Linked DNA regions of Homo sapiens: regions 2 and 3 are each linked to region 1. The links come from fine-mapping of genetic effects on gene expression. Tissue or cell type: whole blood. Region 1 holds a variant in brackets; each other region holds the start of a gene. Each region is shown on its reference strand, or each on the opposite one. Region 1 has its middle 52 kb from the start of IKZF1. Region 2 holds the start of PHF24 (PHD finger protein 24). Region 3 holds the start of EXOC3L1 (exocyst complex component 3 like 1).

The links. PIP is the estimated chance that this variant, and not a neighbour inherited with it, causes the effect.
Region 2: PHF24 starts here. The variant in region 1 is the best candidate, but not a certain one, in a credible set for the expression of PHF24 in whole blood (TOPMed, PIP 0.61).
Region 3: EXOC3L1 starts here. The variant in region 1 is the best candidate, but not a certain one, in a credible set for the expression of EXOC3L1 in whole blood (TOPMed, PIP 0.68).

The regions. Positions count from the first base shown.
Region 1 is chr7:50,250,215-50,254,348 of GRCh38, forward strand. No RefSeq gene overlaps it. Among named protein-coding and RNA genes, the nearest start is that of IKZF1, 52 kb to the right of the region's middle. The variant A/G (reference allele first, on the strand shown) is at 2,444.
Region 2 is chr9:34,956,532-34,960,665 of GRCh38, forward strand. PHF24 (PHD finger protein 24) reads left to right here and starts at 1,754. Exons shown (of 8, transcript NM_015297.3): 1 at 1,754-1,870. RefSeq lists an enhancer at 313-452 and a silencer at 1,802-1,881.
Region 3 is chr16:67,188,033-67,192,166 of GRCh38, forward strand. It overlaps EXOC3L1 (exocyst complex component 3 like 1), which reads right to left and starts at 2,104. Exons shown (of 14, transcript NM_178516.4): 1 at 1,939-2,104; 2 at 1,599-1,651; 3 at 988-1,148; 4 at 689-908. The coding sequence starts at 1,644. E2F4 (E2F transcription factor 4) reads left to right here and starts at 4,123. Exons shown (of 10, transcript NM_001950.4): 1 at 4,123-4,134. RefSeq lists enhancers at 3,846-4,134, 3,945-4,084.

The sequences.
Region 1 (4,134 bases):
TGGGAAAATGGACAGCAACAATTACTTTTACATAGGGAAGAAAATGAACTAGGATTCCTATCTCACATAATACACTAAAATCGTTTCAAGGTAAATTTATGACATAAATGTTAAAAGCAAAACTATAAAAGTTTTGAAAGGCAATGTAGTAGACTATTACCATGTATAGGGAAAACTTTCTTAAAGAGTCGAAAAACACATTCGCAGAAATGATTAACCAATTGGTCTGAAAATTGAGGTACAATGAAGACGTGAAAAGATGATACACATCGGAATAAAATATTTACAACACAGATCACTGAGCAAGTATTTTTTAAAACATATAAAAGAGTCCCAATATATAGATACAAAAAAGACAATTCGATGGAGAAGTGAACAAATTACTTCAATGGGTACTTCATGCAAGAGAAAAATAAAATATGAAAAAGATGCTCAATCTCATTAGTAAGCAGGGGAATTCCAATCAAAGCCACAATTATATTACAGTGGCAAGAAGCTTAAAGATTGACAATATCAAGTGCCTAGGACATTGTGGGACAGAGGAGTAGTGAGTACTTTCTGTGCCTAACACACAGGAGGGCGGTTGTGTAACCAGTGTTACAAAGGGTGTTCCTTGACCATGAAAAGCAAGTCCAACAAAAGAGTGAAGAAGCCAAGTGGTTTTAAGTGCAAATCAAAGTCCCTCAAGTTAAAGCAAAACCAGTCACACTGACTATATTTTCAATGTATTCATTTAGTGCACCTAAAATCCATTCAGTGTCCAAAACTCTGATGATCAAATTAATTCAAATAACAATATCACAAAATCATAGTAATGTGCAAACCAGCTGCCATCTATTTTTGTAGCCATAGTGAGAGATTATATTTTAGATGATGATAAAATAGTCACTAAAATGATTTTTAAATTGTTAAACTATTACAAGCATAGTCAGTACTTATTATGCTTTATTATGATCTGAAAGTCACACAAGTTTGTAAACTATCATTATTATAAGAACTGTTTTAAAACAGATGACAGGGGTTGTGTTTTTTCGTTATTGTTGTTTTGTTTTCTGTCTTTTAAGACATTTTCTGTGAAGCAATAGATTCATGAAGGAGAGAGAACAGCATTGATAGGAAGTAACTAAAACTTCATTTCATTCAGCTTGTGCACATGTACCCTAAAACTTAAAGTATAATAAAAAAAAGTTAATAGATCCTCCATGAGCTTTAATATCCAATGTCCTCATTGTGAAGTTGCCTCAATTACGTGTGCTACAATTTGCAAACCAGTTAAAAATAAAAATGATAAATTGGCAACTAAGTTCAGCCAGTCCTGGAATTCTAAAATTCTAGGATACACCATTGATTACTGGTAAAAATACGAAGATTCTCCATCATCTTGAATTTTATAATTCTGACAGCTTTATGGAAGGAACATATTCTGCCATTGTCCTGGGCATCACTCTACAAGCTTTCTTGCTTGTAAGTAGATCTGAGCCAAGTGCCAGGGCTGCAGAAGCAAGTTCTAGGGCTTTGGAGTCAGACAGCATTGGATTCCCACTGAATTAAGTACTGTGCTTCTGCGCCTAGCCTCAGGTTTACTATGTATAAATGAAGTCTAAATAACCACCTGGTGGGCTAGTGCAAGTATTAAGCACAATAATGCCTCTGAAAGGCCCAGGACATTCTTGGAACAGAGAAGCTCTGTTTCTGCTCAGCCTGTCTCCATTCCTGCCTGATTAGCTCAGGACGCCACAGAGAGCAGGAGGGGCAGCCACATAACAGGTTGGGGGGTGTGTCCATTGGACCAGCTTGCATATCATCTCACCTCTGACTGCACTGTCACTGGCCCTCATGTGCTCTCCCTTCTTTGTCTGCTAAGACCCTCCCAATGGTTTGCTGTTGACATCCAACCTCAGCTCTGTTCCCTAGACTCCGATGCACATCTCTCCTCTCCAGAACCTGCCTCTATGGAGTGGCATTAAACATCTGCCATCCTGAGCCCTCGCTGGTATGGTCCCAAGACCTCCCACAAATGTCACAAGTACCACCAGATACCTGAAACATTCTTTCCCCAACTCTTGTCAGAATGTCCCAACCATAGGCTCTCAGCTTCAGTTCTGCCTGCCTGGTGACATGCCGGCCTGAGGCAGTAGGACAGCCTTGCATGTTTGGCAATAGAGCTGTGCTTCTCTGAATGATTTAGGAATGATCTGGGTATATTAAAAAACTAAAAATCCAAGGTGTCTATTATGATACATGATTGCCAAATCTGCCACTCTTTATCTCCCAGTTGTTCCTTGTCCCATTACAATTTGGTTTAGAATTAACCCATTCCCTCCAACCGTTCTTGCTGGCTTGTAATTGTAATATGTATGCAATGGACACAAAATCTGAAGCATCTCTTCCTGAGTCCCGGTCTGCCTCTAACTTGCTTTGTAAATAGTCACTCTGTCTGTTT[A/G]AAGTGTCTCCACCCTCTTCCTTCTATCTTCTGTTAAGCTACAGGAATGCTGTTTTCTAAAATGCCATCCTTTATGGAAAGATCATGACATTCCTTTCCATAAAATCCTAAAATGTCAAACATAAGAATCATTTGGTTCTTTGTAATACAGCTCTAGCTTTACCTCCCACTATTTTTTCAAAACCTAATATGTACCTTATATTTATTTCTTCATGTATCTTACATTACAAACATATAGACCCATGTGCACTTTTCCAAATTGATCATATTCTTTCTTTTTACAGTAATGTTTTCTGGAAACAATCTCAAATTTAGAGATAAGTTTCAAGAACACTACTAAAAAGTTTGTACCTTCAAATCATTGATGGCAGGTTGTGGACATAATGCTCAATCTATCCCAAACTAGAGTACATTTTCTAAAAACAAATAAATTACCCAAAAACATATTCCATAAGTCTATCAAAATACAAAACTAAAATTGTTATATGACTGCCATTCAATCCACAAACCCAATTCAAGTATCGTCATTTGGTCCAAAATATCCTTTATAGCAAAGGGATCAAGTTTAGAAACATGCATTGCTTTTAGTTATAATTTCTCTTTAGTCTTCTTCAACCTGAAAAAGTTACTCAGTATCTCCTTGACTTTCATGTTCTTGACAGGTTTGAAGAATACAGGCCAGGTGTTTTAGGAATTTCTCCCAATTTGGATTTGCCTGGTGTCTCCTCATGATTTGCTGTGCTGTGATTTGTCTTGCTGTGTCCTATCAAGTGAAACACAGTTTCGATTTGTTTCATTACTAGTGATGTTGACTTTGATTGCTTAAAGTGGTAAGTGTCATGTTTCTTCACTGTAAAATTGTTTTTTTCCTTTTTAATTGAGGGTTTTATGGGTAGCTGCTTTGAGAGACTATGCAAATATCCCATGCCTCATTAAAGTTATAATTTGTTCACTTATTTATTGTCTATATCACTATGAACTATTGGTTCCCTATTAAATTCAGTGGATTACAATCCATTACTATACTGATGTATTTTAATGTTTAAATTCTTCTAGATTTGAACAGTGGGACCCTCTTCAAGTTTTCTTCTGTGTCCTTTTAATGTGTTCCTTTTCAAACCTTAACAACTTTCTTACTTTATCACAGCAAACTATTCCAAGCTCATGTCATATTTTCTCTGTTCTAGCTTTGAAATCAACCATTATTCCAAAGATCCATGGTTCCCATTTGGTGGAAATGGTATTGCAAAACCAAGAGCTGGATCTAGGTGTACTCATTGCTATTGAATGTTGCTGTTTCTACTATTTCTTGGAGACAGAGCTAGGGCATATCATTGTATAAATACCTACACATAGGTGATAATATGGACAAATCTACAGATAGCTTCGATTTCAATTCAGAACCATAGTTTTAGTTTGGTTCCTTTATATTTCTAACATCCTTCTCCAACAATAAGAAACTAGCTCTCATTATTCTTAATATTTATTTGATTAATCTCCTTGGCCATAACCAATCTCCCTCTCCTGCACTGATGCCTCTTTAATCCCAGTTGGCCCAGACACCTCACATCAGGCTGCATGGCACACATCCAGGTCTTGTTGCAAGCTAAAAGCCTACCAAGAAAAAGGACAACACTTACCCTATATTGTGTCTTCTTCCGAGTATCAACTCCACTGTGGCATCTGCCTAT
Region 2 (4,134 bases), not on the chromosome of region 1:
GTGAGCCACCACGCCTGGCCACAATATAAATTTTTTTGAATGAAGGAAGGAATTAACCGACAGAGATTTATATGATGATGTTACAACCTCCTTTTCCATATAAGCCCATCAGACAGCCTAGAAATAAAACACTTACTAAAAACAGTTCAGAGAAGTCTATCTGTGAAACTGTCGGTATGATGTAATTCTAAAGAAAGTTAGGGGGGGACCCCCAGACTATATGGAAGGCTCAGTCTGCTTTTTAGTGCTAGTTTCACAACAAGCAAAATAACCATAGTGTCTCTTGAGAAATAAGCACTAATTTTAGAACTAATAAGTACTAATTTTAGAACTCCATATATTAATGGTTTATAGCCTCTCCTTTCTCAGTGGCAGGACTGAGAAATAGGAGCTTGCGGTATGAAATCAGAATACCTGAATTTCAGTCTCACCTCCATCACATATTAGCCATGTGACCTTGGGCGAGTTGTTTAACCTCTCTTTGCCTCAGTTTCATCACTGGCAAAATGTCGAAACTAACAGTAGACTCCCTCAAAGGGATGGTGTGAAAATTAATGACAACATATTTAAACCATTTAGAATAGTACCTGGCACTTCGTGTTTTAAAGTGATAGAAATATACCATACTTGCCTTATATCCTCTATTGGTAAATTCCATGTTAAGGGCAAAATTTCTTTTTTATATCGCACCAGGGTACCTAGCACAGTATGTAACAAATACTAGACGCTCAAAAAAATGACATGCATTATATTTGAGGTAAATAAATTGAATGCACAAGAAAATAAAGGTATTTTAAAAATGTAAGTGCAATTAATATAAATTAAAGGGCTCTCGACATATCATTTGCATATCTTCAATTTTTCCTTATAATTAGTTGCTGGCTATCTTACGATTTTATCTTTTTCTTGCCCTCTTCAAAGCATGTAGTTTGGTGTAATGCACATTATAGCCCTCAGAATTGCTGGCCTTCTGACAAGCTAGCTGTTTGGATATTGTGAGGGATGAGGTTGCTGCAGCAAAAAGTGGGTTACACGACAGCACAGCCTCGCTGCTGGAGATGAAAAACCAATAATCCCAGAAAACAGCGCATAGGGTAGGCTGGGCCAGCCGAGGATTATGTGAAGGTTCGTTGGGACCCTCCGGAGGCCAGTGGGGTACTGCAAAGGTGAGTGCCCCAGTGCCAGGGGTCGTGAGCCCGGAGCCCTGCGGGGGACGGCTGGTAGGCCCTGCTGGATGAGTCATTCTCCCCACCCCGGGCACGTGCTGGTGGCGGCATCCACCCGGACCCCGCCTTCCCCCCACCCAACCCCCGGCGCGGAACGCGAGCGGTGAGCGGCCCCAGCGCCCCCAAGGCGCCCCCTCCGGGCCGCCTCCTCCGGGCGGGCACTGTCCTTGCCGCAGTCGGCCGCTGGCGCAGTCCCCGCGCCGCAGTGCCGGGCGCTCGTGGGGGGCGCCCACGGGCACCTGGGCCGTCTGCTCATCGGAGCCGTCCGCCGTCCTCCCGCATTCCCACGGCGCCCCACGCCCGCGCGCCCGTCGCCGGTCACCCGCCGCCCGCGGAGCCGCGAGGGCGTCTCCTGGAGGCGCAAGAGGACTGGGCGGGGCGGGGCGCGCCCACCGGCCGGCCCAGGGCACCTCGCGCGGGTGCACACGCCGCAGCCCCCCGGGGCGGGTGGGTGTGCTCCGGCCGCGCGCGCCGCCGCCGCCGCCGCCGCCGCCGCCGCCTCCTCAGCCTGCCGCTCCGCCCGCGCCGCCTGCTGCCGGCGCTCGGCCCAGCACGCCGGCTCTCGGGCTGCCGTGGGCTGCGCGGGGCCCGCGGTGTGTAGAGTCCGCCGCCCCGGAGCCGCGTCCCGCACCCGGACGGTCCCGGTAAGCGGGGGCGGGGGCGGCGGGGACCGGGCCGTCACCTGAGGGGCGGGTCTGCGGCCGCGGACAGTCCTCCGGGACTCTGAGGTGCTTGTGTGGGAGCCGCCTCCAAGGTGGCCCCCCTGTGTCATTGGATGAACCCCAAGTAGCTGCTGCCTCTACGCCTTGGGGGAGTCCCTGAGGTGCTGTGGGGAGCCGCCCCCATAAAGACCCCCTGTGGGAATGGACTCCCGCGGCGCTGTCTGCATTTGCTGCCATAGGGAGCCCCAGCGTGGAGGGGACTGGCCCCAGAGAGCCCTTCTGTGTCACTGTGGGAGCAGGCACAAGGGTGGTCTCTGGAGCTGGCTCAATGGAAGACCACCTGGGAACATAGGGGAGCCGCAGGAACCTCGAGGTGGTGGAGCCCCCAGAGGGCTCCCTAGAAAAGGAGGACCTGAGACTGTGCCCTAGAACTGTGGGAAGCAACCTCTGACTGGGGAGGGGGATCCTCCCATGGGATCCATGAGTGACTTCCCACGGCTCCAAGGACTTTGGCCTCCACCGGGATCCCTGTAGGGTTCCATGTGCCCTTACTTGTATCCCCACACCGTGGCCCAGAGGTGGGGGCCTTCTAGGGCTGCAGCCTCTTTCCATTCCTCCTCTTTCCCCATTCGGATTTTTCTTCTCCATGGTAGCCCAGTTGCTCCACGCTGCATTTTAGTGGAGACAGAAACTGCTGCGAGAGCACAGGGCCCTAAGCCGAGGATGAGGACCAGTGAGGCCTCTAAAGCAAAGATAGGAGATTTGAGCCCCTAGGTTTGACCGTGCGGAAGGAAGCAGTAAGATCAGGTGGAATAACTGACTTTGGCAGGTCCTGGAGGGAAAGGCCTTTGAAGGAAGGAATAAAGGATGTATGGGATTGTTGAGCACCAGTACGCTAGGCAGTATACTAGGTATGTTTAAACATCTCATATAACTCTTACAACAGCTTTGTGAAATTATCCCCTTTTAAACATTGAGACTCAGAGAGGTTTAGCAATTTGCCCAAGGTCACAAAGCTGATGAAAAACATAATCATAAAATGTTTTTCAAATTTTATTTGGGAAAAAGTACTAAGGAGCAGCAGAAGAAAGAATAGATATTTGTTAATAAGTTGCATTAAGGTGCCTGCCGAGCATAGGGTTTTGCAGTGGTACAAGCTCAGTAAATGTGATGATTAAATAAGTGGATGAGGACAGTTTAACTGGCCATGAGATTGCTGCAGGAACTGATTTCCACAGAATCCCCAGATTTCAGGGTGTGGCTTCCTTCACTGGCAGTCCCACTGTCATGATGCCTTGGGGTGGCTCTGGACCTAATTGAGGCCTCTGGGTGTGGTTTTTGACAGGGCTTTCTCTGGGGATCTAGGGGGACCCTTCTGCGGATGGAGTGTCCCAAGACCACCCTACCTGCTACCGAATACTCGAAGGAGAGAAAGGAGAGACAGGATCACTTTTAGGAAGCACGATCCACACTGTCCTTGTGACCCTCTGACTACATGCACCGGTGGACAATGGTCCACAGATAGCACTCAGGACACTTTTGCCCAAGAGTGCCTCTGCATGAGGAGGAGGAGGACAGGAAAGGTGCAGAGCCAAGGAAGGCTCACTGGGAGTCTGTTAGGGGGAGCGCAAAGGGTCTGCGCCAGACATAGTGTTGCCTCCTCATCTCGCCCCCTCGTTGTTTTCATTCTAGCTGAATCCCAAGAGTTCAACTTTGAGCTCCAAGGATGGATTCTGGTTTCTTGTCCAAAAACGGAGTGGTGAGAGGGCCAAGCAATGATATTCATTAGAGCCATTCTGGAAGGGTTTTCCTGCTCCCCTTCCCTGCTTTCTTCCACACAGTCAAACCTAGTTAAATCCTCCTTGAACAGAAGTGGCTTCCTTTGGCTCCTGGAATTACATAGTGAGGAGAGAGACCAAGCTAGTGGGAAAACAGAACAACATAGTTTACCAGTTGTTAGATTTTTTTTCTTTTAACTCAGTGATGCTACCTTGCGCGCAACTCAGTGGAGTAAAGCCCGACAAAGGTTTTTGTTGGTTAGGACCTCCCCATTGTAAAGTTGTTTATAATCCCCCTTTCAGTTCAAACCCATCTGATCAGCTTAACAGATCAGAATAAATAGGTAGGCATATATTTAAAGAAAGTCAGAAGGACCAAACCTGAAGATATGATCTTTGTTCCAGATCATTGATTTGTCATTGAGGTTTTATTCCTAAATTGGTCTTTTGTTGAGGGTGCTTATTATC
Region 3 (4,134 bases), not on the chromosome of region 1:
CAGGAGTTTGAGACCAGCCCGGCCAACATGGTGAAATCCCATCTCTACTAAAAATACAAAAATTAGCCAGGCATGGTGGCACATGCCTGTAATCCCAGCTACTGGGGAGGCTGAGGCAGGAGGATTGCTTGAACCTGGGATATGGAGGTTGCAGTGAGCCGAGATCACACCACTGCACTCCAGCCTGGGTGACAGAGTGAGACTCTGTTTCAAAAACAAAACAAAACAAAAAATGAACAAAAAACCATAAATAAATAAATAAATAACCAGTAGAGTACTGGCCAATCTAAGAGGATCTTGGCAATGTCCTAAAGACCTGGTGGGCCAGAGGTCAACCCATGAACTCATGGAATATGAGGAAGCTGAGGATCCTGGAGGGAAGGCAGGGGAAATCGGGGGGTCCTGCCAGTACTCGCTCAGCCACTCTGTTAGGGAAGAGTTTGAATATACTGATAACCAGGTGGCCAGAGTCACATGACTGGGTGTCTGTCCTGACTCAAGCATCCCACACGTGGGAATCCCAGGATGAGCTGCCTCATAGGCCATGGGAAGCCCGGGCTACTGTCTGGGAGGTCCCTGGTGTGCTGCTCTATGCAGTTCCCCATCTAGTGCCCCAGCCCCTTGATTAGGGATGGGTGTTTGTGGACTGACTATTGGAGGCTGAGGCCCAGGGTCCCTGCATGCTCACCTGCCCGCAGCCGAGGCAGCAGGTGAGACAGGGCCTGCAGTTGCTTGTGCTGGGCAACCCGCTCCCGTAGGGGCTCTAGAGTCTGTAAGGCCTGGGACATGCCCTGGAGCAACCCACGGGCCTGGCTCAGGGCCTCCCGGGTTCCCTGCACCACCTCAATGGCCTGGGCCAGCTGCCACACACCAGTCTGCACGCCTTCCAGGTATGACTGCATCACTGACTGTGGAAAGATGGAGCCATGAGGCTGGGCCAGCCCTGCAGCACAGTCCCAGCACCCGCACCCCCTGCCCCATGCCCACCTTGAGGCGCGATTCCAGGGAGCAGGTACGCTGCACCTCGCGGCTGCGGTACTGGCCTAGCCTGGCCAGCTGCTCCGGCCGGTAGAAGATGCCTGAGGCCCACTTGAGCGCTGCACCCCGGGCCAGCTGCTCTGCCCGCTCCTGCTCTGGCCACTCAGGTCCTGGGAAGGAAGAGCCTGGGCAGCCGTGTAGTCAGGGAGGAGGGCCCAACGACCCCAGTCCCAGCTTTCTTATTTATTTATTTATTTATTTATTTGTTTGTTTATTTGTTTATTGAGATGGAGTCTCGCTCTGTTGCCCAGGCTGGAGTGCAGTGGTGCAATCTCGGGTCCCTGTAACCTCCGCCTCCCGGGTTCAAGCGATTCTCCTGCCTCAGTCTCCCGAGGAGCTGGGATTACAGGCGCGTGCCATCACGCCCAGCTAGTTTTTGTATTTTTAGTAGAGACGGGGTTTCACTATGTTGGCCAGGTTGGTTTGGAGCTCCTGACCTCAGGTCATCTGCCCATCTTGACCTCCCAAAGTGTTGGGATTACAGGCGTGAGCCACTGCGCCCAGCCAGTCCCATCTTTGTTGCCATCATTCCTCCCCTAGTCCACCCAAAAGGTTCATACCAGGGGACAACGCCGGCTGCATCTCATCCTTGGCTGCTGAGTCCATTGTGGGCCTGGAGGAGCCAGAGCTGAGGTGGGCCCGGGGCAAGCAGGCAGAGTAGATGCCCCTGTGAGCTGCTGCCTCTGTCTAAGCCCTTCTGAGAGGAGGAAGGAGGTTCTTCCCGGCCCCCTCGGGAAGTGAGAGGGAGCGGGTGTGATGCGGAGGGCACCTGGGAGGCTTTGCCTGCTAGGTTTCCCAGTCGTGCCCCTGCAGATGTCAAGCGAGACAGAGTGGGCACAGGCCTCCACTGGACCCTGGTCCTGCTCTGAGCTGCACAGGACAGTTTGGTACAGAACTTACCAGATTTGATCAGGCGTCCAGTTCTCCCTCCAAAAATGACCTTGGCCTTGAGAACAGCCCTCTCCCCAATGCAGCTGGGCACGCCTGCCACTTGCTCACAGGGCCTGGGCAACTCCAGCTGACTCCAGCGTGCAGCTGAATTCCTCTCCCCAAGGAAGTCTCTCTCCCACTCCCCACCCAGAAGCCCCTTCTTCCCACCGAGGCTCCTCCCTCCCCAAGGCCATCAACAGAAAGGAAGGAAGCTGAGTCTCTGGCATTTTATTCCCAACAGGAAAGAGTGTCTGCACAGAGGGTGGGGACAGCTGGGCGACACTTCCCTGAGGGGCGGGGGGGTGGGGTGTACTTGTACTCAACCAGTCTTGACCAGCCTACCCAGAACCTCTTAGTGCTCAGGAGAGGAGATAGGGATTTGCTAGACTTGGCCTCAACCTGGGGTGGTGGGCAGAGTGTGCAGATATGGATGCAGACGACATCAACAGCACAGGATGAAAACTGTGTTGGCCAGCCTCTGAGGAGGATGTGTACCTCTGCGGAGGAGTGAGAGGTGGCAGGCTCTTGTGAAGAGGGGTGTGGTGGGGGGTGGTAGGAGAGGGTCATGAAAGCTGTGTTTATCTTTTTTGTTTTAGACAGGGTCTTGATCTGTCACCAAGGCTGGAGTACAGTGGCACCACCATAGCTCACTGCAGCCTTCTGGGCTCAAGCGATCTGCCTGCCTCAGCCTCCCAAAGTGTTGGGAGATTACAGGCGTGAGTCACCGCAACTGGGCAGCTGTGTTTATCTTGAGAGTTATAGGGAGCCAGGGAAGGGACTATAAGGTGGTAATTATTTAGTGGATGTTCAGTCCACCACCCAAATCCACCCTTCAGGACAGAAGTGCTCATTCTCCAGCTGCCAGGAGTGTAGGCTACTGAGATCACACCACTGAGTCTCTCAGTCAATATTGGGGTGCAAAAGCATGGTACCATCGTGTGAACATGAACCCTTCAGAAGTGCTACCCCAATTTCAGAGATCCTAGTGGGATAGGCTGAGGCCTATAATATAATTGCATCTGCTCAATTCTGCTTGTCTTAATCCCTTAAAGGTGTGGATCCTGACCAGGTGCGGTGGCTCACACCGGTCATCCCAGCATTCTGGGAGGCTGAGGTGGGAGGATCTCTTGAGCCCACGAGTTCAAGACTAGCCTGGGCAATATAGTGAGACCCACATCTCTAAAAAACTAAAAATAAATGAGCCGGGCATGGTGGTGCATGCCTGTGGTCCCAGCTACTTGGGAGGCTGAGGTGGGAGAATCGCTTGGGCCCAGGAAGCTGAGACGGCATTGATCTTGCCACTGCACTCCGGCCTGGGCAACAGAGTGAGACCCTGTCTCAAAAAAAAAAAGTGTGGATCCCCAACAAACTTGCTGCAAAACCCTATCTCGAGTCCCATTTCCCAGAGGACCTGATCTAAAAGAAACAATAATAAATAGTAACAATGTTAAAAGTTACAAAATGACCGTATCACACATTCCTGCATGCCAGGAATGACTGAGTGCTTTACTGATATTTACACATAGGTAAACACGTTTGCATTGGCTGAAGTGTTCATAACCCCATAGTCTCTGAGCACTGTACTGTGAGGACAAGACGAGCGAAAGATGAGGCTAGGACCATGGGTGGAACAAGGTGGACAAGGTAGATATAGTTAGTGCTTGCTGTTTGGCAGGAAGTGAGGGATAGGAATAGATGGGGTGACCCCAAGACAGTAGGGCAGCCTTTAGGAACAGGTTTGATGTGGCAGTAAAATGAGTTTGAAATATATAAAAGAATAAATAAAGAGAAAAAAATGGAAAAGGAACAGGTTTGAGGGAGCAGATTGGATTAGTCAGGTAGTGTGGTCTCCTCTCCCAAGATGGGGACTAGGCAGAGTTAGTGATGTTGGGGCAGATTGGCAAGGAAAGTTCCGATGGCGTCCCCTTCTCTACTGCCAGGGCGGCCCACTGACGCCCTTCTCATTCCTCCCCAACTTCATCCCAACTCCCCGGTCTACCCAGGTAGTTTTCGTCTTATTCGGAGGCTGGACATTTGCTACTGGTCCCTGAAGTTTTGCGGCTGCACCCACAGACAGCAATAGCGCCACGTTCCCTGGAAGGCGCACGGGACGGAAGCGGAAGCAGTAACGCTGGCTCCGGCTGCCCGGCGGCCAGGAACGGAAGC